Homo sapiens: one gene and its partners. The protein of the gene in region 2 interacts with the protein of the main gene of each other region in a pairwise test. Each region holds a gene or a part of one and is shown on either strand. Other genes may lie near its edges.

Evidence for each region.
Region 1: the proteins of CFAP206 (region 2) and IKZF3 interact in binary tests that used the Homo sapiens proteins (3 or more experiments, as listed by UniProt).
Region 3: the proteins of CFAP206 (region 2) and C9orf153 interact in binary tests that used the Homo sapiens proteins (3 or more experiments, as listed by UniProt).
Region 4: the proteins of CFAP206 (region 2) and C1orf94 interact in binary tests that used the Homo sapiens proteins (3 or more experiments, as listed by UniProt).

The regions. Positions count from the first base shown.
Region 1 is NC_000017.11:39,762,483-39,770,546, forward strand, and holds part of IKZF3 (zinc finger protein Aiolos), read right to left. Parts: intron 4,012-8,064; coding exon 3,308-4,011; 3' UTR 1-3,307. UniProt on the Homo sapiens protein: Transcription factor that plays an important role in the regulation of lymphocyte differentiation. Plays an essential role in regulation of B-cell differentiation, proliferation and maturation to an effector state.
Region 2 is NC_000006.12:87,403,832-87,411,785, reverse strand, and holds the start of CFAP206 (cilia- and flagella-associated protein 206), read right to left. Parts: upstream 3,815-7,954; 5' UTR 3,697-3,814; intron 1,952-3,696; 5' UTR 1,947-1,951; coding exon 1,839-1,946; intron 1,202-1,838; coding exon 1,118-1,201; intron 1-1,117. UniProt on the Homo sapiens protein: Essential for sperm motility and is involved in the regulation of the beating frequency of motile cilia on the epithelial cells of the respiratory tract. Required for the establishment of radial spokes in sperm flagella.
Region 3 is NC_000009.12:86,228,439-86,236,502, forward strand, and holds part of C9orf153 (uncharacterized protein C9orf153), read right to left. Parts: intron 1,192-8,064; 5' UTR 1,166-1,191; coding exon 1,100-1,165; intron 1-1,099.
Region 4 is NC_000001.11:34,171,721-34,180,455, forward strand, and holds the start of C1orf94 (uncharacterized protein C1orf94), read left to right. Parts: upstream 1-5,186; 5' UTR 5,187-6,069; coding exon 6,070-6,389; intron 6,390-8,735.

The DNA of each region.
Region 1 (8,064 bases), on a different chromosome or scaffold from region 2:
TAGAAATCATGCAGCAAATTCATTAGTCACAGGAAAAAGGAGGATCATATCTATAAAAAGAGTCCCCAGGCTGGTGGAATGGGCCTTGGTTTCACAATCTTGAGATGCAAAAGGTGGTCTCAGGCTGGGTGCGGTAGCTCATGCCTGTAATCCCAGCACTGTGGGAGGCCAAGGCGGGCAGATCACCTGAGGTCAGGAGTTTGAGACTGGCCTGGCCAACATGGTGAAACCTTGTCTCTACTAAAAATACAAAAATTAGCCGGGCTTGGTGGTGAGCACCTGTAATCCCAGCTACTTGGGAGGCTGAGGCAGGAGAATTGCTTGAACCCGGGAGGCGGAGGTTGCCGTGAGCCGAGATCGCGCCACTGCACTCCAGCCTGGGCAACAGAGCGAGAGACTGTCTCAAAACAAAAGAAAACAAAAAAAGTTGGTCTCCTCTGCAAAGACTTGAACACTAATCTGGTGGAAAGGCTTCCTTTCCCTCGTTTTCTCTTCTACTAATCCCTGCTTCCAAATTCTCTTTCTCTTGTCCCTTGAAGAACCAACAGGATGTGCGATATTTCAAGAACGTAATGAGCAACTCCTCTTTCACAAAGGGAATAAGCAATCTGGCATAGCTTGGAGTCTAGTATTACGGAAATACAGTGATATACTGAAGACTACACACCAAAATACATCCATTCCTTTAGCTGAAGTCTCAAACATGTTGGGACTGTTGCCATGGAATTTCATAAAACCTTTTTTCCTGAGACAGACGCCATGCCACAAAGAAGGATAAGCCATTTGTGCAGTCTGAGGTGGAACATTTTAATTACTGGCAGCACATAGACGAGTTGAGTTGGAGCCGAATGCATAAGCCCCTTAGAAATAAAACACTAATCTACCAGGAATTTGGGATTCTTGGCTCTGGTAGAAATGTTACAAATTAAGCTGACTCTTAATTTGTAAATAGGCTCCATGAAGTTGTCCCTGGAAGCAGAATTTATTTTCCCTAACATAATTTCTTAAAAAGTAAAAAAAAAAAGAAGGCTTTGGCAAACAGCTGCATGTGCCAATTTGTGTGTATGCTTTGTGGCAAGATCAAAATACCTTTCTGTTTTTTGTTCCTCTCCACCACCTTCTTCACATTCACAACTCAGTGGTTAAAGGAAAAACTTAACACACCATTTTCATACCAAAGGAATGTGAAACATGTATTCATATAAATACTCTTCTGCTTAATATCCATACATTAGGAGGTTTAAAAAATACCTTGTGGTTACTGCATAATCACATATGAATTAAAGCTAGAAGGGACCTAAGAGAACATTGAAATCTAATTCCTATTTTATGGATGAGGAAACTGAGTTTTTTTTGTTTTTGTTTGTTTGTTTTTGTTTTGTTTTGTTTGAGACAGGGTCTCACTCTGTCGCCCAGACTGGAGTGCAGTAGTGTGATCTCCACTCACCGCAACCTCAACCTCCCAGGCTTAAGCGATTTTTCTGCCTCAGCCTCCGGAGTAGCTGGGATTACAGGCATGTGCCACTACTGCCCAGCTAATTTTTGTATTTTTAGTAGAGACAGGGTTTCACCATGTGGGTCAGGCTGGTCTCGAACTCCTGACCTCAAATGATGCGCCTGCCTCGGCTTCCCAAAGTGTTGGGATTACAGGTGTGAGCCACCGAGCCTGGCCGGAAACTGAGTTTTAAGAGTTAAATAAGGCTGGGTGTGGTGGCTCACACCTGTAATCCCAGCACTTTAGGAGGCTGAGGCGGGCTGATTGCTTGAGCCCAGGAGTTCAAGACCAGCATGGGCAACATAGTGAGACCCCTATCTCTACAAAAAGAACAAAATGTAGCCAGACATGGTGGTGTGCACTTGTTGTCCCAGTACTCAAGAGGCTGAGGTGGGAGGATCACCTGAGCCTGGGGAGGTCGAGGCTGCACTGAGCCATGATTGCACCACTGCACTCCAGCCTGGGCAACAGAGTGAGATCCTGTCTCAAAAAAAAAAAAAAAAAAAAAGTTAAACGATTTCTCAAAGTCACATAGCTAATTAGCCAGCATTTTGTGACCTCCTATTCCAGTGCTAATTTTACCATGATAACAGCACTCCTCCTGATAGTATGTACATATTATGAGTGACAAGGATGACTTATACATCTGCAGAACCGTGATCAGACTTTCAGGAATTTTCATGGAATACAGCAGTTCCATTTAAATGGGAAAAAAAGGGCCGAAGCCTGCCTGATCAAGGAGAACCTCTCAATAGAGGTGTCCCTCCTCACCCCATTCCGGAGCTCAACTCCGATCTAAACACACATGCCATCTATCTCCAATTCCTCTCCTGTGGGGAGGGGGAGGCTGAGCCATACTTTTTGGACTTTTTTTGTGGAAAATATCATTGGCAAATTTGCTTTGGGTCTGTATCACCAATTCTCCATGAACTCTTTCAAGAAGTTTTAGGTAGCTGTTTTTTGTTTGTTTGTTTTCTGTTGGTGCTGCCAAACAATTTCCCCCTTTATACCCTTGCTCTGCCAACCTTGACCAAAGGAAAGCGATGTCATCATCCACAGTGGATAAATTTCTGGAGTTTCGATGATGGTCTATATTTAAAACCATGAGTTCTTCTGGCATAGATTTTCTTCTATAGACAACTGGTTTAGCCCAAAGCAGCTCAGCTTTTCACTGGAGATGGGAAGGTAAAGGACAGAAGCAGAAGTGCCATCAGATGACATTTTTTAAAAATGTTGTGATAGGAAATGGATCTGATGCTTGGAGAATGGGGTCTTCAGTTACTCGTAACAGATACTTATTTTATGGCTGTTCTTTTACTTACTCTTAGACTGTCATTTAGATTAGGGAGATTAGATCTTAACCCTTCAGCCTGTGAAGGGCAGAAGGGTGAGGCTTCCCAGCAAGGTCAGCTGGTCAGCTCTTCCTCTTTGTGGATTTGCATGTATGACTGAAAGGCTTTTCCACGTGTGGTTGATATATCTCAGAAAGAATGTTTCATATAGCACATCTCCGGGACCACTCATTCCACTGCTGTAGAAGATAATGACCAAATACCTTTTTGGCTTTTAAATTCCATAAAATTCAAGTCCCTGATGGGAAAACAAAGGTTTCACAAAAGTAATAATATGCTAGACCTGCGAATAATTTCTGAAGGAAGACAGTGTTTCCCTGGCTACCCCTGTGAACACAGCTAAAAATGGTATGAAAAGAAGTTTGGAACTGAGTATGTTTTGAGAGCAATCTGTTAGGCGAGGTCATTGGTTTTTAGAAACGATGCTGAATACATAGGAGCAATCCCTGAGACCAGATATTCACTTCAGCAGGGCTCTGTGTTCTCCTCTGGCTATGTGAGACGAGAACTCATACCGATCATGGCTTCGATATCCACACATGTTACACTCGAAAGGGTCACGGAAGCCGTGGCAGCCCATGTGAATCGTGAACATCACATAGTCCAGGAAGAGGACGCGGCAGTGGTCACACCGATACACATCCATCACCTCCCCTTCCTTGTTGATCACTTTGACGGAGTCTCTTGGGCAGATGGGCGGGGGCTTGAGGAGTTCGTAAGAGCGGGGAACCTCCTTCAGAAGTGGCATCCCATTGCGGGCCCGAGACAGGACCATGTGATTTTGCTGATAGATGTGATTCTGGCGTTCTTCATGGTTGCTGTCAGTGTCCGTGGAGTCGTGGCCACTATTGTTGGGAGAGAGGCCTCTCTCAGAAGGCACGCTCTTCTCTGGAAGGTGGATGCTTTTCTTTTCCAGCTCTTGAGGGGCACCGTTTGACATCTCAGCCCGGGTGAGGGCTATGGGATACATGCTGCTGATAACTGGAACCATCTCCGAGGTGGGAGCAGGCGGTGTCTGGACCAAGGGGCGCAGGGCTTCGGCGCCAAGATAGCTGATGGCGTTATTGATGGCTTGGTCCATCATGCGGGTCTGTATGAGCTCACTCTCTTTCTCATACATGTAACTTGAATTATAGTTGACATCAAAGCAGTGGCGCTTCTCACCTGGAACAAGTGACAGAAAGGGTTACAAAGGGAACACTGCCAAGGCAGAGAGTTTGTAAATATTTTCTAGAGACCTCAAAAAGGGAGGAGAGTTAAGTTGCCTGCTGCTCAAGAAGACCAAGCCTGGCAGAATGGTTTCCCATGGTGCTGTCTCAGGGGACACTGGTCGGCAGCAACGTGTTTGGATGGTTAAAATAAAGCCAGCAGGCAGAAGAGAGGGGCAGAGATGTGGTTCAGTTGAGGCCACATGGTAAGGTATGCCCACTGTGCATGTTAGAGGAGAGCCCTCAAGAAAGGAGGGAAAGAAGCAGGACACTAGGATGGGGCTAGAGGGACAAGGGAGCCACCAGCCCACAGGAGCCTGGGACTTCTGCTATAGTTCATGATCTCTTAAGACACAGTCGGCTCCCAACTCTTATTTTGCTTTTGCTTGTTATTTTCTGCTTGCAATATTAGGTAGCCAGGGGGACAGAAGTGCTGCAAAGAGTGGGGACACTCGGTGCCTCACCTCGGCAGCTTTTTAAATAGCTACAGAGATAGAGAAAATAGCCCCCCAGACTCCAACTGGCTACTCCCCAAACTCACCCGTCCTGGCTGACTGAGACTGAAGTGAAAGAGCTTCAAATGTAGAAAGTTTGAGAAAAGTTTTCTTGAGAAGAGATCATGGTCTTTGTCCCTTTCCTAACGTGTGTTTCTCTTCCTTTGCTTGGCAAGTGTATCTCTGATACACATGTGATCATTAGGGCCTATCTCACACTTAACTGAAAAAATATACTTGTGGTCACCCTCTCCTACTTCTCATGTCAAACTGCTGAGAAGTTTTGAAAACAGAGTTTAGCCACCTTCAGAGTGTGTGGGTGTTGTGTGTTAGAAAACAGAGGCTCTCTGGTCACAGGGAAGGCAGGGATGGGGACTGCAGTGAGGGCAGATGTGCTCAGTGGTGAGTGGTGGGGAGAGGGGAGAGAAAGCGAGGAAGTGGAGCCGAGTGCTGGAGGTGAGGCTGAGGTCACTGTTGAGCCTCTCCATTCTGTCAGCTTGGATCCTGGAGGGATTTGCTAAACCATATCCTTCTATAATGTTTCCTAGTCATGTTGAGATTCCAAAATTTGTCACTGCCCTACAGTAAAGGGTTCAGCAATGAAAATAAAGAAGAAGAAGAAAAAATGCCATGAGAAAACAAAAGGATTGGAAGAACCAGTTCCTGTTCTTGAGGTGTCTCCAACCTAGTGGATGAGAAATAAGACCTATATATATATAGAACTCGAGAAAAAGTATAAGTTAAAAGTTGGCCGGGCGCGGTGGCTCAGGCCTGTAATCCTAGCACTTTGGGAGGCTGAGGAGGGAGGATCACTTGAGCCCAGGAGTTCGAGACCAGCCCGGGCAACATGGAGGAACCTTGTCTCTACAAAAAAATACAAAAATTAGCCAGGCATCTGTAGTCCCAGCTACTCAGGAGGCTGAGGTGGGAGGATCACCTGAGCCTGGGAGGCAGAGATTGTAGTGAGCTGAGATGGCACCACTGCACTCCAGCCTGGGTGGCAGAGTAAGACCTTGTCTCAAAAAAAAAAGTTGTAAAAGGACTGCTTTGCTCTATGGAGGTCTTTGCTTTTATTCTAAATGCCCACATTTGAGGCATTTAGGCAGGGAAGTAACGTGTTCTTTAAAAAGAATAATAAGGTAACATACAGGCATCGGTGAGACAATTTGGTATAAATTGTATATTTAGGCATTAAGGGAATGCAGAAACTTCAGAAGTACTTGGGGAAGGGAAAGCATTCTTGGAAAATCTAAATTTTGAGAAGGGTCTTGAACTGGAAGAATTTAGATTTTCAGAGAAGCGGGAGAGGACATCCTAGTTGAGGGGGAGTGCAGGAATGAAGGCAGAGAGGTGGGACTACACGGGACGTGTGCAGAAAGCGAGTCTGGCTGAAACGCGATCAAGAAGTATGAAATACAGTATTTCTCAGGCTTCACTCTTCCTTCACATTCTGCAATATCCACACACCAGGGCAGTGTGGTGGTTGAGAGAATAAACTCTGGTGTCAGATGGGCTGGGTTTGATGCTGGCTCCATTGGTCACCAGTTTTGTGACCTTGGGCAAGTCACTTAACCTATGTTCCGTGTCCTCATGTAAAGTGAAGATAATTGTATGTACCTCACAGGGTCACTGGAAAGCACTTAGAACAGGGCCTGCCACATGGAAAACACTTGGTAAATGCTTGGGTTTTTTTCCTCTGTTTGATTTGGTTCACATTTTCTTTCTTTTTTTCTTTTTCTAAAATAAATGTGGTTTTTAAGGAAACTTTATATCACTAACATAAACGGAAAACCAGAATCACTTTCCACAAGTAGAAGGTAACTATGAAAAATAAAGACAATGAAACAGAGCATTTCATTAAATTTTGATCGGATACTACTGTGAGTACTTGGAGACTAAGATCCCTTCCCCCTTTGTTAAAAACAGAGATTACCAAGTGTGAGATTAGTGTTAAAGACAACTGGCATCAAATTAAGTCTAAATTTTTCTCCTTAGTATGATCCAGGAGACTGAAAGAGAACTGGAAAGAAAATAATTATCCTGCTGTGTGGACCCAGGTTTTTAAATGCTCCATGTGCTTGCTGGCAATTTGCATCCTACATTTGGGGAAACACTGAAAAAAGATAATGCATGGTAGGACCGAATGGTGGGCATTCCGAATGGCCCACTGTAGGGTGTGAATCCGAACCAAGAGCCAAGGCTACCTGCCCTTGAGAAAGACAGGTTTGTGGTTAACGTAACAGCAATGTGTAAGGCAGACCAGAACAGTGAGAAATTGGAGCCAGAAGAACCAGCTAAAAGATCTATTCCCATGAGATGAATTTGTCTTTGCATCCCCACAAGCAGCTGACCTTAAGGCCAACCTGATAGTTTCCAGAGAAATACCTGAGAGAGAAAAAAAATATGCAAACGAAAATACCCTGTCTTGGAAACTCAATGAGAAGCAACAGCAGAGTAGACCTTGGCCAAAGTAATCAATGTTTTTTATTTTCAGTTTCCAGATTGGATATATCTTTGGTCAAGGCCATCTGGAAGACTGAGAACATGAGAGCCAGCTAAGGTCACAGACATTCATTCCCTAGAATGTGACACAGAAATGATGAACTTCGGTTTCTTGGCCTTTTTAAGGTTATTGGTTATTTTCCACTGTGGCCACCTCTATTCATCTCCCTAAATACCAGGGGTCCTTGAGAAACTTTTTCTCTTTTCACCCAACAGAGAGGCTCCAGAAGGTTTCTGGGTGGGGTAGGCACATCACAAACTCTGATTTTATCCTTTCTCCTAAGAGTTTGCTTTACTTAACAAGGCCTACAATTTCACAATCTATACCACCTGCAGCATATGTCAGAAAACAGCTGAGTGCTAAAATTGTAAAAGGCAAAACATTAAGAGGAAGATAAACCCCTGGATGAGTGGAAATATGTGACTGAATTCTGTAGTTAACACAGACCATTGTTCATTGTTAAGGAGATGGGGCAGCCTCAGATGTTCACGTGCATGCAACTTGCAATCATCAGATCCCCTCGTCTCTGAGTTACGGTAACTTGAGCAGTGCAGATGATTATCAGTCACCTGTAGACACGATGACTCAATGTGTATGAAACCCAGAAAGGGTAAACTACAGTAATTGAAAAGCCAACAGCTCACGTTTCTTTAGTAACACACTCATAAAAAAGGTTAGTCAAACCACAAAAGTGTAACTGCTTCCAAACCTGCACGGAGCATCTGGTCCAGCTTCTAGTCAAAATCACACCACGCCTTTGAATGATTCATGATACCAGCTTCAGGCTGAATTAGAGGTCTTCTTCCAACAAAAATACACACGGCAACAGCAAGTCCTAAGTTTAGAAACTAAGGCTGCCTGGTTGGGCCATTCCCTACCTGTGGTTCTTTTTAAAGGTGTCAATGTCTTATATCTTGGCTTTGTTAACTCTAAACTAAGAAACCACCTGACCTGAACTGATGCAATGTGGTGAGGACATATGGTTGTTGGCTTCTAAGTGCCAACTTGGAAG
Region 2 (7,954 bases):
ACACTGGAGAAATGACATCCTATTCAATAAATGGTGCTGGGAAAATTGGATTACCATATGCAGAAGAATGAAACCCATCCCAATGTCTCACCATATACAAAAATTAACAACTCAAGATTGATTAAAGACTTAAATGTAAGACCTGAAACTATAAAAATAACAGAAAAAAACCTAGGGGGCTGGGCATTGGCCTACGCAAAGAATTCATGACTTAAAAGTAAATGCAACAGAAATAGACAAATTGGATTTAAATAAACTAAAAAGCTTCTACACATCAAAATGAATAATCAACAGAGTGAAAAGACAGCCTGCAGAATGGGAGAAAATATGTACAAACTATGCATCTGACAAAGGACTAATATTCAGGATCTACGAGGAACTCAAACAACTCGACAACAACAAATAACCCCATTATAAAGTGGGCAAAGGCCATGAATAGATATTTTTCAAAAGAAGACATACAAATCGCCAAAAAGCATGAAAAAAATGCTCAACATCACTCAGCATTAGAGAAATGCAAATTAATTTAGTTCTATTTAACTTCACAGTATATGACGAACTAGTTAATGTTTGCAATGTAAGACATTAGTAACAAGGTTTCACTAAAATACTGTAGCAGATGCTGCTACCTGCCCAATTTCCCTGCCCTTCCTTCCTTACTAACAGAGCCTCAATTTGGATTGGGGCAAGGATTTATTCATCTAAGAAAGAAAAAAGAAGTGAAATGTCCCTGGGTCACTTACAATATCATTCTGGTCAATAAATGTTAAGTAGATGGGAGGGATTCTGGGAAAATTATTATTTTCTGGATAGAAGGTGATAGACCCAATTGGCACACATATTTTGCCCTTTGTCTTTCCCCCTTCTTTCTGCCTAGAGGCAGGGTAGCTATCTTTTGACCACCAGATGACCATATTGCAAGGATGGTGTGCCCCAGGAAGCCAGGAAGAATGGTCTATGTCTCTCCAGATTTTGTGTTATGAGAAAAATATCTCGTGTATACTACTATTTTGTGGGCTTTTGTTTCATGCAGCTGAAGGCAATAATGACTAATACAAATATTGTATTTACAACTGAGAATAAGTAATTGCAAATTTGAGGACTGTTGGGTAATCACCTTAACAAGATTCTGCACATCACTTTTCATGAGGGTTCTATCCATGTTAAAGCCATTACTTGGATCCAGGACAACAGCTTTCACCTAGAAAAAAGTAGGAACGAGTCCATTAACTAGGAAAGAATCCATTAAGCAATTTTATTTCATATTATTAGCTTAATATGTTTCCATTTTTTAAACAACTACCTCTTGATTACGTTGGGGTTGGTTTTCCAACTATTCTTCTTATTACTGAACTCATCAGTACCCTTGTTAGAGGTTGAAAAAAGGAAGCAACAAACATCAAACTTGAATATGGTGCTAGAAAAGTTATATGGGGAAATAAGTTGAAAGCAATGGCTAGGTTTTCAATTGGGAAACTATGGCATATTTTATTGTATTTTTATTGTGTATTGTTAACCAAAAGCAAGAACAGAGAAACCACAGCAATGAGTAATTTTTAACAACGGCAAACAAAAATACACGTCAAAAAATTCCCACACAGGAGAACATTATTGATGTTTCCAAAACTCATCAAGGTCTTCTAAATGTCTCTATAAATCTAGAACTCACATGCTCTATAAACTTTTTAAAAATGTTTTCACAAATTTGTCCAATTATCTCGTTATGCTTCAACTGAAAAACATTTATGAAAGCCTCACAGAATTTAAAGGGGAAAATGGACACCACATCTTAAAAAACCTCTTAATAAAACAGTAATCACAAAAATATTTCTTCTTACCATAAAAGCAATCAGAGTTTCAGAAACAATCTCTCCATGGGCTGCACATTCTTGTCCTATTTCTCGTATAATACTCCTTATAACACTTTCGGCCTGAGTTGGAGGCATTCTGGCTAAATAAAACAACAATTTTTTTTAAAAAAACCGTGGTTTTATGCAAATTTATTTTTTTCCTCTTTTGATTTCTGCAATATTGTATTTGTAAACAGTCATAATATCATCTATTAGCTTATTAGCATTTTTATTAGTATCTAGGCCTCTCCTGTTTTTCATTATTTTTAAAAATGAAGGACTTTATTGAAGACAGACAACGATTGGGATTTCAAATAATTGAAACATTTGATAAATAACATTTTCAATTATTTAAATTATGGTCACTAAACATATATTCCTATCATGATATTCTTAATTAAAAAAAAAAAAAAAGGCTAAGCAGGCTGGGCGCGATGGCTCACGCCTGTAATCCCAGCACTTTGGGAGGCCAAGGCAGGCAGATCACCTGAGGTCGGGAGTTCGAGACCAGCCTGACCAACTCAGAGAAACCCCGTCTCTACTAAAAATACAAAATTAGCCGGGAGTGGTGGCACACGCCTGTAATCCCAGCTACTTGGGAGGCTGAGGCAGGAGAATCGTTTGAACCCGGGAGGCGGAGGTTGCGGTGCCATTGCACTCCAGCCTGGGCAACAAGAGCGAAACTGTGTCTCAGGAAAAAAAAAAAAAGGCTAAGCAGTATTTGTAGGGGAGGGAGGTAAAATTAATGAGAAACCCAAGAGTACAGCTTTAAAAGGAGAAATGCTTATTCCACCACATTCATTAAATGACCCTTCAGAACTGTACTAGAATCTTGGAAAACAATTCTTGCTCAGATCATTAAAATGATCTTTTCCGCACATCTAAAATAGAGTTCAGACTCTCGATAAAAAAAAGCATTTACTATAAGGAAAAAGTGGTAGGTTTTGATCGAGTTTTCTGATTTTCCTGAATATCAGTAACTAAGCACAATGGAAGTTGGCATGTAGAGTATAACAAAGGCAATATCAGGTAGATAAAGCCAACTCCTCAGCATTATTAGCTTTCCAATGGATGAGTACGAAGCACTAGGCATTTTGTCCAGTGAAACCAGATTGCCTGGATTCCATGGTGACCCGACCACTGTCCAGCTGTGAGACCTTGGGCACTTGCTTCACTTCTTTCCAGAGGTGTGAGGACTAAATTAGTCCTGTTTTTAGTGGTTACAACAGTGCGCGGCTTAAGGGAATCGCTTAAAACAGCTTATAATCAGTACTCCAAGATCACAGGCAGCGCATGCGCAAGTGCCAGTCAGTGGGAGAGTCCGTCGCGCTCCGGATCTGTGTGCGCGCTCCGGATCTGTGTGCGCGCTCCGGATCTGTGTGCGCGCTCCGGATCTGTGTGCGCGCTCCGGATCTGTGTGCGCGCTCCGGATCTGTGTGCGCGCTCCGGATCTGTGTGCGCGCTCCGGATCTGTGTGCGCATGCGCGCCGCTGCCGGGTCGCTAGGGACGCGGCTCAGCACCTTCCCTGCACCCACCCTCCAATTACTAAGTCTCCCGAGGTCCGGCTTCTGGGGTAGCCAGTGGAGCGAAACAGAAGCGGGAGGCCTCAGGCACCCGCGCAAAGGCTAGAGGGCAGCCCTGCAGCCCTGGGGTGGCGCCTCCGGCAGGAATGGACCGCTGTTCCAGCTCTGCGGCGGCGCAGCCTAAAGGATCGAGACTGAGAGCTAAGTCTCGACGAGGCAGGACGCGGTCCTCCAGCCGCCCGAGCTCCGCCAGCCGCCCCAAGCTCGCCGCCTGGCGGGGTACGCCTCCGGGTCAAGGGCGCGGAGCCCCGAGTAGGCTGACCTGGATCGGAATCGACAGCAGGAGCCGTGTCTGTCTGCTTCTGTCCTGGGGCCCTCACCGCGACGGTCGGAGCAGTTGGGCGCTCGCAGCCACCGCCGCGTAACCATGGAGATGGAAGGCTCCGGACCAGAGGGGGCGGGGCCAGGTGGGGGTGGGGCGGGGTCCCACTTTGAGGGTCTTTCCCCCAAAAGATGGGCTGGAAAAACTTTAAAAACAAAGGAATTTCAGGCAGAGACATCTTAACCTCCGTGGTTAAGACTGTGAAACACAAGTTCTCGTAAATAAGGATATTAACTTGCTAGCGTGGGAATGATGAGGCGGCTTTGAAAGCGGGGTGGGGGAGAGGGAGGAGCCAGTTGGAGAGGCTGGGAAAACGGAAGGGCTGTATCCTGGGCAAATAGAGTTCTTGTAAAAGTATCTAGTTTTAAAAAACAAAAGTAAAAAGTATCGAGGTTTTATTTCATGTCCCGTTGTTCAAAGGAAGTCTGTAACAGAACGCTCCAAGATGCCCGAAGAGAAAACTGCTCATTCAAGAAGCACATGATAAGAACACATTAGTGTCCGAGTCAAAATAATGAGGTTTTATCCCTTAACGATAATATCGTTAGGCCCACCTTCAGACGTGAAAGTGTGAAAAAGGATTAAATACTCATTAGAAGGAGAGCATCAAACAACAAGGTTTTATTTTTAAACAGTAATTTTTCTCAAACTGCAAACAAATATGCAGAATATGCTTTGCTTAAGGACATTCCCTGATTACTAGGAAATGAATCAACACAAAAACTCAAGAATATACATCATAATATAACACAATTTTATTTCCGCCTTCTAGAAAATGTTCCCGGAATGTGGAAGAAGCTTGTGTAAAAATAGATGTTCAGAGTAACAAGATTTATAATAGCACAGCCTTAGAAATCTAAACACGTTATTTAAGTAAAATATCAGGCAGGTATTTAAAATTATGTTAACAAAAACCTTGTGTTTGTCTTATATTTGTTAAAAGCCAAATGCGAAATTTTTATATAATATGACTTAAACTATATTGACATACATATAATGCACAAAAAGTGTAGGTCAGTTTTTCAAAATCACAGCAAGCAATTAGATCTAAGGATGGAATTATAGGTAAATTACTTTTATTTCTTTATACTTTTCTGTTTTTTCTAGATTTTTCCATAATGAGTATATATTGTCTTATGATCTATAAAACAAAATTTAAAAATACAAGGGAGATGAGACTGGCTATTTGTAGAGAATGAACCCAATTTAGATATACAAATATACTGTAAGTATACAAGGTAAAGCAACCAAAGGACGGTGAGATAGCAAAATTTTAACAGTGGTTGTAACTTTGTAATGGCTTATGGCTGATTTGTCTTCTTTATACTTTAAGATAGCTACCAAAATGTCTTCCATGAGCATATATTATATATTAGAATATTAAATATCTTTTAAGATGGTAAGAATAATACCATCATATTAAGTATAGTTTTAAACTAATGGGCAAATCCTGGCACAAATACTCCCTGAAGTATGTTTGATACTGTTAATTCCTACTTAATGTCAATGTTTTCTTCTCTTTCTGTTACTAATTTAACCCTGTGTTGGGAATGACAGTGTTCTCTTTTAAAAAAAAAAATCTCTCAACCTCTTTCTCAGTGAGAGTGGCCTGTGACATGGTCTAGCCAATGAGATGTAAGTGTAATCACTGGATGAGGTGTCAGGGAAAGCACTTCCATTTTATGTCTATTGCCTTTCCTTTTCTTTCTACTTGAAATGAGAATATGCTGGCTGAAGCTCCAGCAGCCTTGCTGTGAACATAAACATGAGGGTCACATCTTAAGGATGGTGGAACAAAAATGAAAAAGGAACCTGAGTTCCTGGTAACGTCATGGAACAGCCCTATCAGCTTCTTGACTGGCTATCTCCAGACTTTGCATGAGAGAAGATAAACTCCTATTTTATTAAGCTACTATTATTTGGGTTTTTTGCTACATTCAGCCAAACTGAATCCCTGACTGCTACAATGGGTATGACTTTGGAAGTATTATTTAGCGTTTTGTGCTACATTGAATTATTCTCCCTAATCCTTCATGCCTCTTAGCATCCACACCTTTGCCATGGACTTTGGTGGAGTATACTTCCCCAATCCTTGATTTTGAATTTAGCCATGTGACTTGCTTTGGCCAATAGGTTGTGGTGAAGCAACGGTGTGCCAAATCAGATCCAAGATCTTAAAGAGACCCCATATTTCTGCTTTCTCTCTTGTGCCTGTATCATTGCCATGAGAAGTACATACAAAGCAAGCTCTTTGGTCCCAGAATCACATGCATATGGCACAGAATTGCCTGAACCGATCTTTTAGTAAGATGCAGAGATGCCCAACTAGGGCCCAGCCTAGATCAGCCAAACTCCAGTCAACCTGTAGATGTGTGATAATGAATGAGTATTGTTTTAAACCGCTGAGTTTTTGAGTGGCTTATTATACAGTATAAGTGTGGAAAGAGTTCATTTATAAACCTTTCAGTGATTTAAATTTCTCATTTATAAAACAAAACAATGGTATCTATCTCGTGGAGTTGTGAGAGTAAAATGAGATAGCCGTCATGAAGCACTTAGCACAGCATCTGACATAGATAAAAGGATTCATAAATTTTAGAAACTAGTATTTTATGACCTTTATCATGGTTATTATTGACAACATCAACTATGACAATATATTTTATACTCCCATGGTTTATTGGACTTCTAGTCTTTGTAGAACTATTTGTTCCTAGTTTTAACACGGCAGCAATGGCATTTAATTAAAAAACACGGAGGAACCAGAGTGCATCCAGAGAATAAGAAAAATTTTGTCAGAATAAGATAGAGAGAACTGGATATATTTACCTTGAGAAAAAGAAGGCATGAGAACTCTTCTCAGTTTTGTTAAAAGAGAAACCAAGTTTTATGTTGTTTCAAAACACCAGATTACAAATCTACATAAAACAGTCTTAAAATAGAATTGTGATGGAAGTCATCCTAGAAGAAGTGAAACCCATTTTATCAAATGTTTTTTATCTAAAAGCTAAAAGATTGCCTTTAAGAATATTGTAGAATTAATTTCTTCTGATTAAGTATCTTTAATATGTCACAAACTGTTCAACATTTAAAGAGAGAATTATATATTTTTCCTTTTCCTCAGGCTTTAAGAAGTTTTAAGCTCAAATGAGTTGAGCTTCTTAGCATGTTTAATAATTTTTTATTGAGCCGGGCACGGTGGCTCACGCCTGTAATCCCAGCACTTCGGGAGGCCAAGGTGGGTGGATCGCCTGAGGTCAGGAGTTTGAGACCAACCTGGCCAACATAGTTAAACGCCGTCTCCACTAAAAATACAAAAAATTAGCTGGGCACGGTGGCGGGCGCCTGTAATCCCAGCTGCTCGGGAGGCTGAGGCAGGAGAATTGCTTGAAGCTGGGAGGCGGAGGTTACAGTGAGCCGAGAGATCGCTCCATTGCACTCCAGCTTGGGCAACAAGAGCGAAACTCCGTCTCAAAAACAAACAACAACAACAAAAAATAATAATAATTTTTTATTGAATACTGGACGTTGTGAATTGCATCCTTGTTCAGTGTCTGAATTGTCCCCCTTTAGGAAGGGTTGTGCTGTTTTTTTCAGCCAGTTATTTGTGGATGAGTTTGATTCATTTGTGGACTGTTTTTAAGCTTTATTAGGGTAGGTCTAGAGTAGTCTTCATTCCAGAAATAATTTGACCTTACTACTAATTAATAACTGCTCAGAGGTCTTCAATGAATTCCTTGGTTTTCACTGAGGACTCTTCACTCTGGCTGGTCAGAGCTCAAATGTCTTCTCATCCTCTGTGAGCTCTAAGAATTATTTAGCTTATACTCCCTGGTCATTCTGTGCTCGACTGTGTGGATTGTCAATCCATACATGAACAGCCAAGTACTTAGCAAAGTCTCAGATTTATGAATTCTATTTATTTATTTGTATAGCTTCATCCCTTCCAAAACTTTGCCCTTCAATTTCCACATCTGTGAACTCTGATCTCTGTCTCCTCAACTCAATAAAGTCCCTAGGCAGTGGGTTTACCTTTCTATGCCCAGGATCTGGAAACTGCCTCCAGGCAGAAATTTGGGGGCAATAATAGCAAACAGTTGTTTTATATATTTTGCCCAGTTTTCTAGTTGTTTGTGGTAGGAAGTTAAGTCCAGTCCTTGTTATTCCATCATGGTCAGAAGTGGAACCTTGGGTAACC
Region 3 (8,064 bases), on a different chromosome or scaffold from region 2:
CAGATCACTTAGATATCAGAGCTTCATCCTGTTGTCCAAAGAGCCCATAATGTTCAGGAATCCAGTGCTGAGGAGGCGACAATAGTCATTGCTCACTGGGATATGTGACCAGAGCAAATGGTGACATACATTGAGTATCTGGGAATAGTTATTGGCAGAAAAAAACAGTAACAGATCCCTGAGAGGACCTGTCCCCATCTAAAATCCTATACTTCCTACAAATCCTATCCTTTCTAAGAGGTTTCTTAGGCCATTACACTGGAAGGCCAAAGAGGCCATAGTCTCAGGTTAGGGCTGAAATTTAGGTCCTTTAGCCCAATGCAGAGTTTTCCTTCAATCCTAGTCAATTTTATTGCAAGGGCAACAAATAGAAAGTGAGCTAACGCGTGGGAAAGTAGAAGGGACTTTGGACGTCTTCCAGAATGTCAAGAGTCTGCGGCTACAGAGGCTACACAAGTGGTCCAGACCCTGGAACCAGTATGAGCTCTGCTACAAGGTGGTGCAGGAATATATGGATGCATTCTCAGTTACGCCAACTTCAAGTAAGAGGCGACAAGGGCCCGTGGACCAGGAGGATTGCTTTTAATATTTTATAATAGTCTGTTTTGTTAGTTTACCCCAAATTGTGTATCTGTCTTGTAACTGTTTTAGAAATTGGTACATAGGTGGAGATTTTATAAGTAAATGTGTTAGCACTGATAGTCTTTTTTTCCAGTGTTTTTTTGGGGAGTTAAATAGTGTGATGTTTGGACCGATATCATGAAATCTTTAGCCTGGAAATTGGGCTGGATTGTTCTCTGGTTAATACATCTTTTCCTAAAGAAAAAAAAAAAAAAGAAAGTGTGCTAACATTGGTGAATGGCTCTTTATAACGAATTATACAACCACACTATCACGAAAACAGCTCAGCACTTCTGCCCACCTGCCCTGGGAAGAGCTACACTTCTCTGTGACTAAGAATGTTAAGTCATTAAAGTGACATTTTGGAGTTTCCCATGGCTCCCAAGTGTGTCACTGTGCGTTCAATAGTTTGAATGTTTATGATTCTTGAATGTAAAGCTCCCTGTGTACACCTCGTTGTACAATGTTAAGTACATACTGAACATTGAGGAAGGGTGGCTTCTCTATTGTCCTCAGCTGGACTGGTGTCTCCAGTGAGGAACATCGTGCTGGGATTTTATTCTCTAATTCCTAAAAAAAGCAATATGAGAAAAGACAAAAATCAAAGATTAAAAATCAGATAGAATACAAAGGGGGAGGTGAGACTTCTTAAATCTTAATAAATTTGTGAGTGGGACATTTTGAAAATTTTATACCTGTATTAGTCCATTCTTGAATTGCTCTAAAGAAATATCTGAAACTGGGTAATTTATAAGAAAATAGGTTTAATTGGCTCATGGTTCTGCACACAGTCCAGGAAGCATGGTTGGGGAGGCCTCAGGAAACTTACAATTATTGGGGGAAGGCAAAGGAGAAGCAGGGCACGTCTTACATGGCCAGGACAGGAGAAAGAAAGAGCAAAGGGGGAAGTGCTATACACTTTTAAACAACCGGGTCTCATGAGAACTCACAATCATGAGAACAGCAAGGGGAAATCCTCCCCCATGATCCAGTCACCTCCCACCAGGCCCCACCTCCAACACTGGGGATAACAATTTGATGTGAGATTTGGGTGGGGACACAAATCCAAAGCATATCAATACAATTTAAACTTTTCATTTGCTTTTTCGTAGTTTAGGTCTGCCAAATTTGTCATGCTTCAACTGAGCATTTCACTGAAATACCCAAATTCTTCTACAACATGTGTATTTAGTTTTAATACTAGTGTAACAAATCCTATATGGATGGTTTTATTTTTTATTTTATGTATTTATTTTTTTGAGATGAAGTTTCACTCTTGTTGCCCATGCTGGAGTGCAATGGCACGATCTTGGCTCACTGCAACCTCTGCATCCCGGGTTCAAGCAATTCTCCTGCCTTAGCCTCCCAAGTAGCTGGGATTACAGGCATGTGCCACCACACCTGGCTGATTTTGTATTTTTAGTAGAGACAGGGTTTCACCGTGTTGGTCAGGCTGGTCTTGAACTCCTGACCTCAGGTGATCCACCCACCTCGGCCTCCCAAAATGCTGGGATTACAGGTGTGGGCCACCACGCCCAGCTGGATAGTTTTATTTTCTTGTCTTACATATTCTGATCAACTTTCAGTTCATCTAAAGAAAAACTCACCCACCTCCTTACACTCAAAAAGTGTTTTTTATTCAGGAGGAAAAGGCTCATATGTAATGATAATAATAAAAACAATAAATATTTTGAAAATAATTTACTTTGTGTCAGATACACTATAAGGCATTTTGCAGATGGAATTGTGTTTAATTTTTCTGCAAGACGTTAAAAATGGCCATGGAATCTCCACAATTCATCTCATTGATAAGTGGCAGTTAAGTTCTCTCCCACATTTTACTGGGCTGGCCTATGCTTGGCTTTGATCAATAGCTTGTGGCATTGTGTCAGTGACATAGTGTGAGTGCCAGAACCCAGACCTTAAGAGGCTTTGCGGCTTTCCTACACATTCTTGGGAGCCTGAGCCACCATGTAAAGAGAGATCTGGCTGCCTATCTGGAGAGACCATGCAGACTCAGCAGCCAGTATTGACCACTAGACATGTAGATAAAGCCATCTTGGTTCACCCAGCCCCAGACGAGCCTCCAGATAACTACAGCAGCATAAGCAACCTCAGCCAATCCCAGATGGAGAAGAACTACCTCCCAGCTGAGCAAGGCAACTCTAAAATTTTGACAAAGAGTAAATTATTATTGTTTCAAACCACTAAGCTTTGCATGAATTGTTATATAGCAATAAATACAGATAAACCCCATAAAACTTCACATTCTTGGCTTAATTTATTCCAGTGAAACCCTTATTGGTAGGTAAGAGAATATATGGATGGAAAATATATTTCTAGGTACAGGGTACCACTGTATCATGACTGGCAGCTGTGGTCACTGGGATGAGTGTCTGAGATGAACCAAAAACACTCACTTGGTATTTGGAATGAAGTGAAAACAATTATGTTTCTCTTCCTTCCTGAGTAAAGTAGAAAAACCCAGAATGGATACACACACACACAAAAACACACACACACACATACACAAACATGGATATATATATATATATACATGTATGTATATGCATATATACATATATATATAAAATCTCAAATACATTTTTGTCACTATTTGTCACTACTGAGATCACTATATTGATATACAGGACTAGAAAAGCAATACAGTGCAGCATGCCTGCCACAGACCTGTTTATCTCTAGGCAATTACAATGAGACTTGATTGTGCTTTCCTCCTGCAAAGGAAGGAAATTTTTTCTGCAAAGGAAAATATTTCTCTAATGTGCTTTACCTAAAACCTGTCAATGTCTTCCAGTCAATCATTGCTATTGTCTTTCAGACAGCTTCAGAGTTGTCCACCATAGGAAGGTTGCCTTCTCCCATCACCAAGGGTTAATAAATTTTCTCCTCCCTTCCCTCAGAGGAGGGAAAGATGTAATCTCTCGCCTCTCTCCCCTTTTCTCTCTCTCTCCCTGCCACCTCCCAATTTTAATCAGCAGTGCCAATATCCAACTTCAATGGCCAATCTCCAACTCTCTATACATGGAGTCAAAGCAATAGCTAAGAAATATGTCCTCATGTTATTACAATAGTATTGATGATGACAAGGAATGGAGCACAAATAAGTTTAGATTCTTGCTCATTCTCTTTGCTAAACTACCGTTGGGTGCATTTCCCTCTCACTGAAGTGTCAGGATTCCGAATGCTGAAACAGATCACTAGCCGAAAATGCTTTTAGACACTTAAAGGTTGACTTGACTAGCAAACTTTTAACCTCAGTTTTTGCTTGATCCAAGTCAATGCCTAAATCTAGACCAGCCCTTTGACCCAATCTCTCATGGAGAGTGTTCCTGGTGAAGTCATGGAAATATGGCCAATGGCCTGTTTACAGATTTGTGTGAGTAAAGTGAAGCTTTTGCAGGGGACTGTGGCACTTCTCTTCATCGTTACTCCCACAGATTCCTACAGTAAATTTTCCTTGTACTGTGAAGAGCAAGGGCGTCTCACAGAAACTCTCGGGGATGGTATCCTCTTCTCCATTTGCACTCACCCCCAACTTTTCACCCTTCCCTCCAAATCAGAAGGAAAAAAGTTCTCTCTGCTCATCTAATGTTAATTTTTTCTCTCTCCCACCCAGGGTGTATATTTTATCCTCCTCGTAATTCTTTTTCTTTTCTTTTCTTTTTTTGAGATAGAGTCTCACTCTGTCACCCAGGCTGGAGTACAGTGGCACAGTCTCAGCTCACTGCAACCTCCAGTTCCCGGGTTCAAGCCATTCTCCTGCCTCAGCCTCCCAAGCAGCTGGGACTACAGGCAAGCGCCACCACACCCGGCTAATTTTTTTATTTTTAGTAGAGACAGGGTTTTGCCATGTTGCCCAGGCTGGTCTCAAACTCCTGACCTCAAGTGATCCACCCACCTCAGCCTCCCAAAGTGCTGGGATTACAAGCGTGCACCATTGCGCCCGGCCCCTCCTCATAACTCTTGTGGAATATTTCCCCTCAGTTATCCTCCCTTCCCTTCCAACAACAACTCCTCTTGTCTTCCTTCTTGCTTCCTATCATTCTCTTATCTTCAGTCTCATGTTCCCCAATGGCTCCTTCCTTTCTTTGCAAATATGTAAAATGTTTTCCACTTGGGGTAATAATGCAACTTCTCTTGACTGTGATCCTACCACTAACCCTGGACTCTTGTCTCTTCTTTACCTCTGAACTTGCTGTATTTATATTTTCATCATGTAATCTTCAGTATAATGACATTTAGCTTCCACCTGGCTGATGAACTAAAATTGAATTCTTAAAAACAATAGTGACTTCTTAATTATCAATTCTAGTGTAGTTTTTACAGTCCTCACTTTTCTTTTTTCTTTTTTGAGACAGAGTCTGGTTCTCTCACCCAGGCTGGAGTGCAGTGGCGCAGTCTCGGCTCACTGCAACCTCCGTCTCCCGGGTTCAAGCAATTCTCCTGCCTCACCCTCCTGAGTAGCTGGGATTACAGGGATGTGCCACCATGTCTGGATAATTTTTGTATTTTTGGTAGAGTCGGGATTCTGCCATGTTGGCCAGGCTGGTCTCAAACTCCTGACCTCAGGTGATCCACCTGCCCTGGCCTCCTAAAGTGCTGGTATTACAGGTGTGAGCCACTGTGCTCGTCCAATTTATAAATTTCTTGACCAGACTTACAAAGACTATTCACAATCTGCTTCTGACACTTTTCTATCATTTAAAAATATCATATTTCGGCCGGGCGCGGTGACTGGCGCCTGTAATCCTAGCACTTTGCGGGGCTGAGGCGGGTGAATTACAAGGTCAAGAGATCAAGACCATCCTGGCCAACATGGTGAAACCCCATCTTTACTAAAAATACAAAAATTAGCTGGGCATGGTGGTGCATCCCTGTAGTCCCAGCTACTCGGGAGGCTGAGGCGGGAGAATCGCTTGAACCCGGGAGGTGGAAGTCGCAGTGAGCTGAGATCAAGCCACTGCACTCCAGCCTGGAGAAAGAGTGAGACTCTGTCTCAAAAAAAAATGATAATAATAATGACCATATTTCAATGCTACCGCAATGCCATAAATGTTCTCTGTACTTTAGCCAGCTGGGCTCATTTTTTTCTGAAAAAATCTTCTGCGCTTCTGTGCATTCTTTCTTTGAGCTTATGCTCACTCTGATTTCCCATTTAGTCAGACAGAATGTCCTTCCTTCTCTTTTATGACAATCTAAATAAAAACATAGTAGAACTGAAGCTGAAATGGAGAGAACCACAATGTTGAATAGCTATTGTGTCATATAAAAGGGAAACATAAATAACAGGAAATGAAATAAAGGCTAAAAATTATTTAAAGAGAACTCAATTATGGTGAATCGATTTTCTGACAAAGTTGCCAAAATAATTCAATGGAGGAAAATAGTCTTTTCAATAAATGGTGCTGGGACAATTAAATATCCACACATAGAAGAATGACATTAGACCCCTACCTCAATCCTTACACAAAATGAACCTAAAATGGATTATAGAACTAAGTATGAGAGCTGAAACTATAAAACTCCTAGAATAAAACATAAGGGTAAATTTTTGTGACCCTGGCTTAGACAATGGTTTCTTGCGTATAACACGAAAACATAAGCTACAGAAGAAGAGAATAAATAAGTTGGACTTCATCACAATTAAAAACTTTGGTGCTTTAGTGAAAATAGTGAAAAGACCAATCACAGAATGAGAGAAAATATTTACAAATCATACATCTGACAAGGAACTTGTATACAGATGTACAAAGAACACTTAGAAATCAGCAATTAAAAGACAACCCAGCTGAAATATGGGCAACGGGACTTCTAGTGTGGCTTCTCCTCTGGCATGCAAGGAGCTTGGAAGTACCAGCAACTCTTCTTAGATCTGGCAGAGAAGTAAGGTCACAGGGCAAATTGCTGACCTAAAATTGGAGAAACAGACAGGCAAATACAGGGAATTGCAGCTTACTGAAGTAGGAAGCTCCTCGAGAACAGGGCAGAAGCCTCCAGAAGAGCCAGTACAGGAATCATGTTCGGCTTTCAACAAAAGATTATAAGGCAAAAAAACAGAGTTTGAAGAGACAGGGCAAGCATCAGAACTAGATTCAGATGTGGCAGGGATGCTGGAATTACCAGACTGTGAATGTAAAACAACCATGATTAATGTGCTAAGGACTCTCATGGGAAACGTAGACAGCATGCAAGAATAGACAGGTATATAAGCAGAAGATGAGAATTCTAAGAAAGAATCAAAAAGAAATGCTAAAGGTCAGAAACACTGTCAGAGAAATGCAGAATGCCATTGATGGGCTCATTAGTAGACTGGCTATGGCTGAGGACAGAATGTCCGAGCTTGAGGATATCTCAACAGAACGTTCCAAACCTGAAAAATCAAGAGAAAAAAGGCCAGGTGTGGTGGCTTATGCCTGTAATACCAGCACTTTGGGAGGCCGAGGCGGGTGGATCATGAGGTCAGGAGTTCAAGACCAGCCTGACCAACATGGTGAAACCCTAGCTCTACTAAAAATACAAAAATTAGCCAGGCGTGGAGGCATGTGCTACTCGGGAGGCTGAGGCAGGAGAATCGCTTGAACCCAGGAGGCGGAGGTTGCACTGAGCCAAGATCGCGTCACTGCACTCCAGCCTGGGTGACAGAGCAAGACTCCATCTCAAAAAAAAAAAAAAAAAAAAAAAAAAAGAGAGAGAGAAAGAAAAACACTGGAAAATAAATGGTAACAGAATATCCAAGAATTGTGGGACAATTACAAAAGGTATAACATATGCATAATGAGAATACCAGCAGAAGAAAGAAACAAAAGCAATATTTGAAGCAATAATGATTTAAAATTTCCCCAAATTAATGTTGTACACCAAGCCACAGATCCAAGAAGCTCAGAGAACATCAAATAGGTTAAATGCATAAACCCCCCAAAACAAAAAACTTCACATAGGTATATCATATTCATACTGCAGAAAACCAAAGATAAAGAAAAGAAATCTTGAAAGAAGCCACAGGAAGATTAAAAGTAATTATTTGCTATAAATAGCAAAGATAAGAATTACCTCTTCCTTCTCCTCAAAAAGCATGCAAAGAAGCAGAGAATGGAATGAAATGGTTAAAGTGTTGAGAGAAAAAAACCCACCAACCTAGAATTCTGTATTCTGTGAAATTATCCTTCAAAAGCAAAAGAGAGAGAGGGCCAGGCGTGGTGTCTCATGCCTGTAATCCCAGCACTTTGAGAGGCTGAGGTGGGTGGATCATGAAGTCAGGAGTTCGAGACCAGCCTGGTCAACATGGTGAAACCGTGTCTCAACTAAAAATACAAAAAGTTAGCCAGCTTAGTGGCGTGCATCTGTAATCCCAGCTACGCAGGTGGCTGAGGCAGGAGAATTGCTTGAACCTGGGAGGCAGAGGTTGCAGTGAGCCGATAT
Region 4 (8,735 bases), on a different chromosome or scaffold from region 2:
TGATAAATTCATGCTTGGGGTTATTTCCTGGAAACATTTTGTCTCTGCAGATGAAGATGTGTATTTTCTGCTGTCAGAAAACAAAAACTCTGCCACCCGACGTGTTTCCATTTTTGCTTTAGCTGACAAATAAGGATACCCAGTTTTATTGCCTTATTACCTCCATGAGGCCTGACCAGTTCGGGTGCTGGAAAGTAGCAACTGTTTCTGTTTTCCTTAGAGTCAGTTCTTCCTTTATTCTTTGATGCTGTAGTTTGTACTTTTTAATCTGAAAGCTGCCTCAAATCATCTCAGCAGTAAGGTAGAAGAAGTCTTAAGTGAATGCATTTTAGTGACCAATGTCCCGGCATGGAAGCTATGGAAGGAAGGGCAAAATATAAAGCTTCTAGCTGAAGGGTTTCCCATAAAGGGCCTCGCCAGGAATCCTTGGCATACCTATCACTACTGGGGTCTGGCAGAAAAACCAAAGCAGGAGGAAAGCCAGCTGAATTCTGACTTTGTTTCTACCTCACTGGACCACTACTGCCACCACCATATTCTTTTATTCTGTCATCTAGGACCTTCCTTTTCCCTAACTTTAAGTGGAGATCTCATAGGCTGCCATTTTTACATTGCTAGGCTCTCAATAACAATAGCTAGTGATAATCATAATTACACATTTCTTTTTATTGAGAGTTTACCATAAGCCAGGCACTGTGTTGAGAAGTTCACGTGCATTTCCATATTTAAACCTTCTTCCTACCCCAAACCTATTGTTTTTACAACTTTGCAGATGAAGAAATGTCAGAGAAGTTAAGTATATACAAAGCCACCTTTATCAAGTAGTAGAGTAGGAATTCCAATTCAAGTGTGTCAGCTGCCACCACCCGAGCTCTTAACTGCCTCCTCTCATGTGGGCAAGGAACAAGGCAATAGTAAGGGAAAAACCCCCAAGAAATGGCAGAGATCACCGATGGTGTTGCCAGGAGAGAGAAGCCACAGAGTCACAGCTTTGCTTGCAGAATATTCAAGGTTCCTTTTCAAAGTCCTAGAAATGGCTGGCTGCTCTGCAGCCCTGTCCTGTTGCTGAGACAACATGAGGGGGAGGCCCATTCCCATGAAACATGGCTGCAACCTCCTCTTCCTTTAGCTGTGATGGTTAATTCCCCAAGATATTTGCCTGGGATACTCCTATGCATGGATCCTGCCTCTGGGCAGTTTGACCCATTGAGCATTATTCGCATGGGAATGGGGGTCCCTCTGGGTTTTAGGGACCTACAAAAGCGTTTGAGTCCTAAATATTTTATGATTAGTCCCACAATACAAAGAAGAAAACTGCCACATGGAAATCAGTAAATATTTAATTAAATGCAGAGTATAACATTATGTCAACTTCATTAACTGTTGGATTTAGTAGTCATAAAAATTTCATTGCATTTGGTAACAATTTGTAGGTTGGAGTTTTCTCACTGCACAAGATTTCTCGAGTAGGCACTAAGATTGGTGAGAAATCACAGCCCATCACAAATTAAATAAATTACTCATGGCCAAAAACTTTCAAAAGCAAAATGGCAAAAATCCTTTCAATTTTCCTCTATAGCCAAAAAGTTATTTTTATGGTGAGAGGTGGGTGTGTTTAAAATATGTTAGATGAGGAACCTAAAAGGACCTACAAGAGTAAGCAGCCTTAGGGGCTATATGATGATTGTAAAAGAGCCTAGGCCATTCCCACGTTTCTGAGTTTTCCAGCCTAGCCATGTTTGTGTCAGAGATGAAAGCCAGATGAGAAGAGGCTTTGACTGGATGGGAGGTAAGGAGAATTGCCTCCTCCTTAGGCCTTCCTGGTTCCACAGAGAAAAGCTAAGAATCCCAGAATTCTAAATAATGATAGCCAACATTCACTGGATACATACATTAGCCAAGCTATTATAAGCACTTTACATGTATTATTTCATTATCGTAAAACAAGTCTATGAGGTCAGTATTTTATTGTCTCTGTTTCATAGATGAGCAAATGGAGACATTGAGGTTAAACCAACCTGCCCAGGGTAATGTAAGTAGTCAGGGGGAATTCAAGAAGTTTTCCAAGCTAAAAATAATTTACAGATTAAATGGTGTCCATGACCATTAAATGCTTCACTTTAAACTCTAAAAAAGACAGAGACCAAACTCCTCTTCTTCACTACTCTATCTTCAGCACCTCAAACAGTGCTGGGCATAGATACATGTGTTGGAGGAACATAACTCCATGTTGGATGGAAACTGGAATAAGTCAGTTTATATCACACTGCTCTGCACCAGGCACTTATGGAATGCTTTGCCCCGCCTCTGTCACTAGGTGATTCTGTCTAGGGTAGACATCTTTTTCATCATCTCTAATCCCTGTGTCTTTCACAATTTTGACCCATGATGGATGCTCAAAAATGAACAAAGCCTGGAAAGGCGTAAGTGATTATGTGAATTCGTTTCTCCATCACAGAACAACTTCCCCAGTACAACACAATTCTCCCTCTCTACACAAAACACAAAAGCTGCTATTCAGAAACTCCAAAGGCATGCATTTCAGTGTAATCAACAAGCAAACAACTGTATAACACGTTTATCTGTCAGTTGTTGTTCAAGGGACTTTCCATGTGTTAAGCAATTGGTTAGTAATAGAACATCTGTAGTAATTCTACAAAGCAAGTATTCTTCATTATCATCCCATTTTACAGACTAAGAAATCAAATGTTGTGGGCTGAATTATATGCTGCAATCCTAAACCAAATACCTCAGATGTGACTGTATTTGGAGATGAGTCCTTTAAAGAGGTAGCTAAGATTAAAAAAAAGAAAAAAGCCATTAGGGTGTGTCCTAATCTAATATGACTGGTGTCCTTTAAAGGAGTGATTAGGACAGGGACACATATACAGGGAAGACCATGTGAGGACATAGGGAGAACACAGCCAAGTGCAAGCCAGCGAGAGAGACTTCAGAGTGAAACTAACAATGCCAACATCTTGGTCTTGGCCTTCTAACCTCTAGAATGGCAAGGAAATAAAATTCTGTTGTTTAAGCCACACAGTCTGTGGACTTCGTTATGGTAGCCCTACCAAACTAATACACCAAGGCACAGAGTAACTTGCCTAAGCTTACATTGCCAGAAAACGTGAACTCAGAATCTGAACCCAGGGACTCTGGTTCCCGAGAATATGTATTTAATGATAAGAAATGTTCTCTGTGCTGTCCAATATGGTAGCCACTAGCCATATGTGGCTACTGAGCACATAATATGTGGCTAATGCAAATGAGGAGCTGAATTTTTCATTTAATTTATATAAAAATAAAGTTAAAATTAAAACAACCCCATGTGGCTAGTGGCTACCATATGGACATAGCTTTATACTATTTCTAAGTACATCACTTAAGATTTTTGCAGAATTTTCTAGAAATCTCGTCTGTGCACTCTAAAAACATGCTCTATCTTTGTTCCGTATCCCTGCTGTATTTGATTTTTTTTTTTTTTTTTTTTGCAGTCCTTTCTGATTTAGCCCCCGTTGCCTGGTCTCCTGCTGAGGGGGAGAGGGAACAGGAAGAGTGAGTGAGCTGGCTAACTTCCAGAATCCTGGGGCCTGGGCAGTGCAGGGTCGTTGGCGTTCTGCTCTAAGCTTAAGGTGTTAGCCAACCAAATGCCAAGCAGCACAAACACTGAGTGACATTTTCAGAACTATTAATATTTCATCAGAAATGATCACTTTTCCTTTAAATACACTATTTTAAAAGGTTTTCTACATTCTTAACTATAATTTTATTCAGTCTAGGCCCTCAGAATTTTCCCCAAAGGAACACATCTTCAATTTTGTAATGAAAATCAAAGGAGAATGAAGCTCAGATTTCAAAATTTAGAGTAAACATTTCCAGGAACTCAGCCCCTCTGTAAAGAGCAAGGTTGCGTATTGGGCACCTACTGTATACCAGGCACTTTACATACAGTATACCATTAATTCATCCAACACATATTTTTTGAGTGCCTACTATGTGCCAGAAACATGATCCTCATAATTTATTAACACCATTTTACAGAAAAGGAATTCCTCTCATCCTTCTCAAATTTTTCTCCTCAAAGAAGTCGGCCTGGACCACCATGGAATATTGCCTCCCCTCTTCTCCCCAGTGCCTCACTTTGTTACTAGGTTGGTACAAAAGTAATTGTGGTTTTTGCCATTGCAAGTGATGGCAAAAACCGCAATTACTTTTGCACCAACCTAATAGTTATTTTCCATCAGAGTCCCATTGCATCTGTAATTATTGCTGCTTTACTCGCTTGGCTGGTTTGCATCGATCTCTCCTCGCTAGTATACAGGCTCCAGGAGAGCAGGGACCATGCCATTTTTGCCCACCCTTATGCTTCTTCAGTGCCCAGCAACTCATCGGGCACAGAGGAGGGGTTGCATCAGTACTGGGGGAATTATGAATGGGGATGGGAGAAGTTCAGAAAGTTCTTAAGGTCACACAGCTCGGAAATGAGTGTCAGGATTCAACCCAGCCCTGCATTTATAGACTGCCATCTTCCTCTATTTGTGTCCATTCTTCTTTCTTCCGTCTCCACCCTCTTGCTTTTCCTTTTCAGGGGAATTGCTAGAGAAGCAACCCCCTGACTCTCGGAACCAGAAAGTCTCCCTCAGCAGAGGTACTGTGTCAGTGCCCAATTGAATGAAGCCGCTTCAGTGAGGGTAGGGGCCTGTTGATCAGCAAACAGCTAACTTAGCCCTTCTCCCTGCACCTCGGACCTCCTACTCCTGCTCCTACCCACCTACTGAAGCTGTCTCAGTGGTCAAGGGCTAGATCAGGCCTAGAGTGCTGGGGTCTGAGTCTCAGCTTCCCTTTTCTCAGGGGGCCTTGGACGCAATCCCTTATGACTTTGAGATTCGCTTTCCTCCCGTGTAGAACGATAATAAAAAGTGGTACTAATTTCACGAGCTTTAATAGGATTGAATGTGAGCCCAGCGCTTGGCACAGGGCAAGCGCCCCATAAAATGGCAGTTAGGATTAAAATCGAGGTTGCCGGGGGACCCCCAGGCAGGAGCTGAGATTTGTGTGGAGCGGCGAAGTGGGGCGGCGGCGCGTTTGGCTTTGACTTCTGATCCCCCGAAGCGCTCTGGGGTCCTTTGGGCCCCACCCCCACCCACCCCACCGGCGGGTCTTGGGCTCCGAACCCAGGGCGCCCCGCGCACCGAGCCGTTGCGTTTGAAACCCACAGAAAGAATTCCCCCGCTCGACGACGGCGAGGGTGTGGGAGCTACTGGCAGGCAAATTGGTGGGAGCCGCCCGGCCCAGCCTGCCTTGCCGAGTCAGCGCGCTCTTGAGCCGCTGGGCCCTTCCCGGTGCCCGCCTGGCAGCGCGGCGCGGCTGGGGCAGGGGTCTGCTGGGGGCCGGGGACTAAGGGCTGTGGGCCCATCCACACACGCCTCATCCCTTCTTTCCGGGGGCAGCAGAGCAGCAGCGGGAGACCGGGAGCAGGAGGGGTAGGGCGAGAGAAAAGCAGGACCTGGGCCGGGGGTGGGAGTCGGGCCGTTGACGCTCGCTCTGCGAGGGGCTCCCTGGGAACGCCCAGGCGAGCGCCTCCTGCGGGGCCCCGCCCCCCGAGTGCCTACAATGGTGCCAGGCCCGCACCCAGTCCTCCGCGTGGCTTAGCGGGACAGCATGGGCTGAGCCCAGGCGCCGAAAGTTGTCACGGCGGCGTCGCAAGGGGGCAGTGCCAGGGACTGTGGGGAGAGCCAGCCCTCCCCTTCCAGCTGTTCCCAGATGTCATTCTGCCCGCCCAGGCGCCTGGTTCCTGAGCTCCGCAGCATTCCACTGTTCCTAAGCTACTGGTTTTTGTTGACTTTTAAATATTTTCTTCTAAGGGAGAGGGGGAGGGAGGCAAAAGTCAGGAAAGAGCAAATAAAAACAAATCAAAATAAGCCCTCCCCTCCCCAAAAGAAAGCTGTCCTCCACCCACCCCTCCCACACAAATAGAAGGCCTCTGAACCTAACCACCTTGCTGGAGCGAAAGCCAGACAGAACTGACCCACTTCTGCCAAGCCCCATCCTCATCTCCCTTTCTGGTGAATGAGGGGTGGTGGTGGTTGTGTTCTAGCCCTGGGTGGACAGAGGGGCTTCCAGAAAGAGAGGAGGAGGATGGCCAGCGGGAATGGGCTTCCTTCATCCTCGGCCCTGGTGGCCAAGGGCCCCTGCGCCCTGGGCCCATTCCCCAGATACATCTGGATCCACCAGGACACACCCCAAGACAGCCTAGACAAGACTTGCCATGAAATCTGGAAGAGAGTTCAAGGCCTGCCTGAGGCCTCACAGCCCTGGACCTCCATGGAGCAGCTCTCTGTCCCTGTGGTTGGAACTCTAAGAGGCAATGAGCTCAGCTTTCAAGAAGAGTAAGTACCCCCCTACTCCATTGGCAGCAAGGGAGGAGGGAGGAGATGAAGTCTGACCTTCTGGGGGAATGTTCTGGCCCACTGTTGAGGCTGGTGAAACCCTAAAGGCTGTATATTGCCCCCTCCATGGTCCTTTGTCCAAGCTTTATAGAAGAGCTGACCAAAGTTCTGAAGTTTTGTGGGTGAAGAGTCAGATTAGGGCTATATTCCAGGCTGCCTCTTCACCAGCCCGTTAAGCAGACATTTCTCATCCTAAACGCATGTGAATCTGAGGTCCTTGAAAAACCACCCTAGCTAAGGCTAAGGGTTATATGGCTTGTGGCTTTCCCCAGAAGCAACTAGAAGATCCTTCCCCTCTCCCACCTAAAGGCTAGGCATTCACATGGATGAGTCTGATGGTTTTAAATCACATCTGGAATTCCCTAATACAGGGAGCAGCTGTCCCATTCAGCCTCCACAGAAGCTGCTGCAAGAGCACACATCAAAATATTTACTGGGAAGGCACTGACATATTCAGAGGACATAATAGAAAATTAAAGTGCGGGAAGATGGCTGTAAATAGCCCGTTTCCGGGATGGGAAATCCTGTGTCTGGGAAACACAGAGCTAAGTGTTTCTCCATCAGGGCAAAGTTGGGCAGATATTGTTGAGGATGGATATTCGAAAGGAAAGGAAGGAGCAGAGAGGAAAAAGGGAAATTAGGAAAAGAAAGTAAATCTGCTGTGGTTATTAATACCGCCGTTGAGCACTTACTTATTTCACGTTTTGCATCTTCAAAGTGGACTGTAAACTTAATTAATGTTCCCAGAGTCCCTGTGAGGCAGGTATTAGTGTCCCCATTTTACAGATGGATTAAGTGTTAATAATTAAGAGCTAATTAAAGACTAACCGATAATTAAGTGTTGCCTGCTCCAACACATGCTACAGCTCAGTTCAGAGATGCTCTGGAGTTGGGGAGCCATTCAGGCATTTATCAGCTGCCTCGGGTTTCAGGGATGCCTAAGCAAGAGCTAAGAAGAAAAGCAAAGTGTAAATGACACCCAGCTCTACACTACCTGCTGTCCCTCTGTGGGCTCATTTACTTACTGCAGATGAAGGTGGAAGGCACTTTGGCTAGTCCTGCCTCCCTGCCCTGTGCTCAGCATGACAAGGCTCAGACAGGAATGGCCCATCTACAGCTAAAATCCTGCTGTCAGGCCCTTCAGTGGCACTGAGCCCTTCTCCCCTGCTCATTGCCATCTGCTCTGGGACAGGGCCTTGGCAGGAGGGCCCATGGGGCTGTGCTCTGCTCTCAATGGCCAAGAAGCTGATTGTCCACTTTGTGGACCAAGGGTCAGTAGCAATTTCCAGTAGATGGCATCCTCTTTGCCAGGTCACACAGAGTTAATGGAGACAGACTCGACTTCCAGTCTGCACTTGGCTGAAAATTGAACTGGTGCACCTTTGGCCAGCTGCTTAACTCCATTTGGCCTTTACTTCCTCATTTGCAAATTGAGGGTGATATGTGCTGCCTTGTCTACCTCAGAGTTGATAATGAGGATCCAATGTGATGGGAGACAGGGAAATGAAAGATGCATTATACAAATCAGGCTGCTCTTAACATGTACTTCTTCAGGTTGGGATTTGTTGTTGTTGTTGTTGTTTTTGTTGTTGTTGGCTTCAATCTGGGGTTCACACTATGCTCCATATACCTCAAGGTGCTTCAGGGGTCACTGTGGAGTCAAGTGGGCTGGTTGCTGGGCCCCAAAATCCATTTCAGCCAGAGCTGTTTAGCTTTTATCAGTTTTACTTACTAGAGTTCTGAGTAGGGCTGAATTTGAAAAACATGTTTCTGCTATTGAGAAAAGAGATAGGAAACCAATGACTTAGACGAATAAACGACATCCTAATTGTCAACCAAATAGAACACAATGAGCTATTCTTAAAATAAAGGCGGTGTGCTGGTGGAGTCAGATAACTCTGGTTTCAGATTCCATTTCAGCCCCATGCCATTTGAAGAATTTGTTACTCTTTAATTTATCTAAACTTTGGTTTCCTCATCTGCCAAATGGAGATTAATACTATACATTTTGTAGGGTTGTTGGAATGATTAAATGGGATATTTAAACATTTATGGTAATAATTCAGATTTGTAAAAATTCCTTGCAATTCAGATGTGATCATTTCTTTAAGCTCTACAATTATTGCATGAGGTAGGTACTCTTTTAAACTTTCCATCTCTTTTTACTTTTTATTATGCAAATTTTCAAACACATAGAATAATAATATGGTGAATATCTATGTGTCTATCACTGAGTTTCAATAATTATCACATTGTGCCATTCTGGTTTCAATTGCTACCTCCACC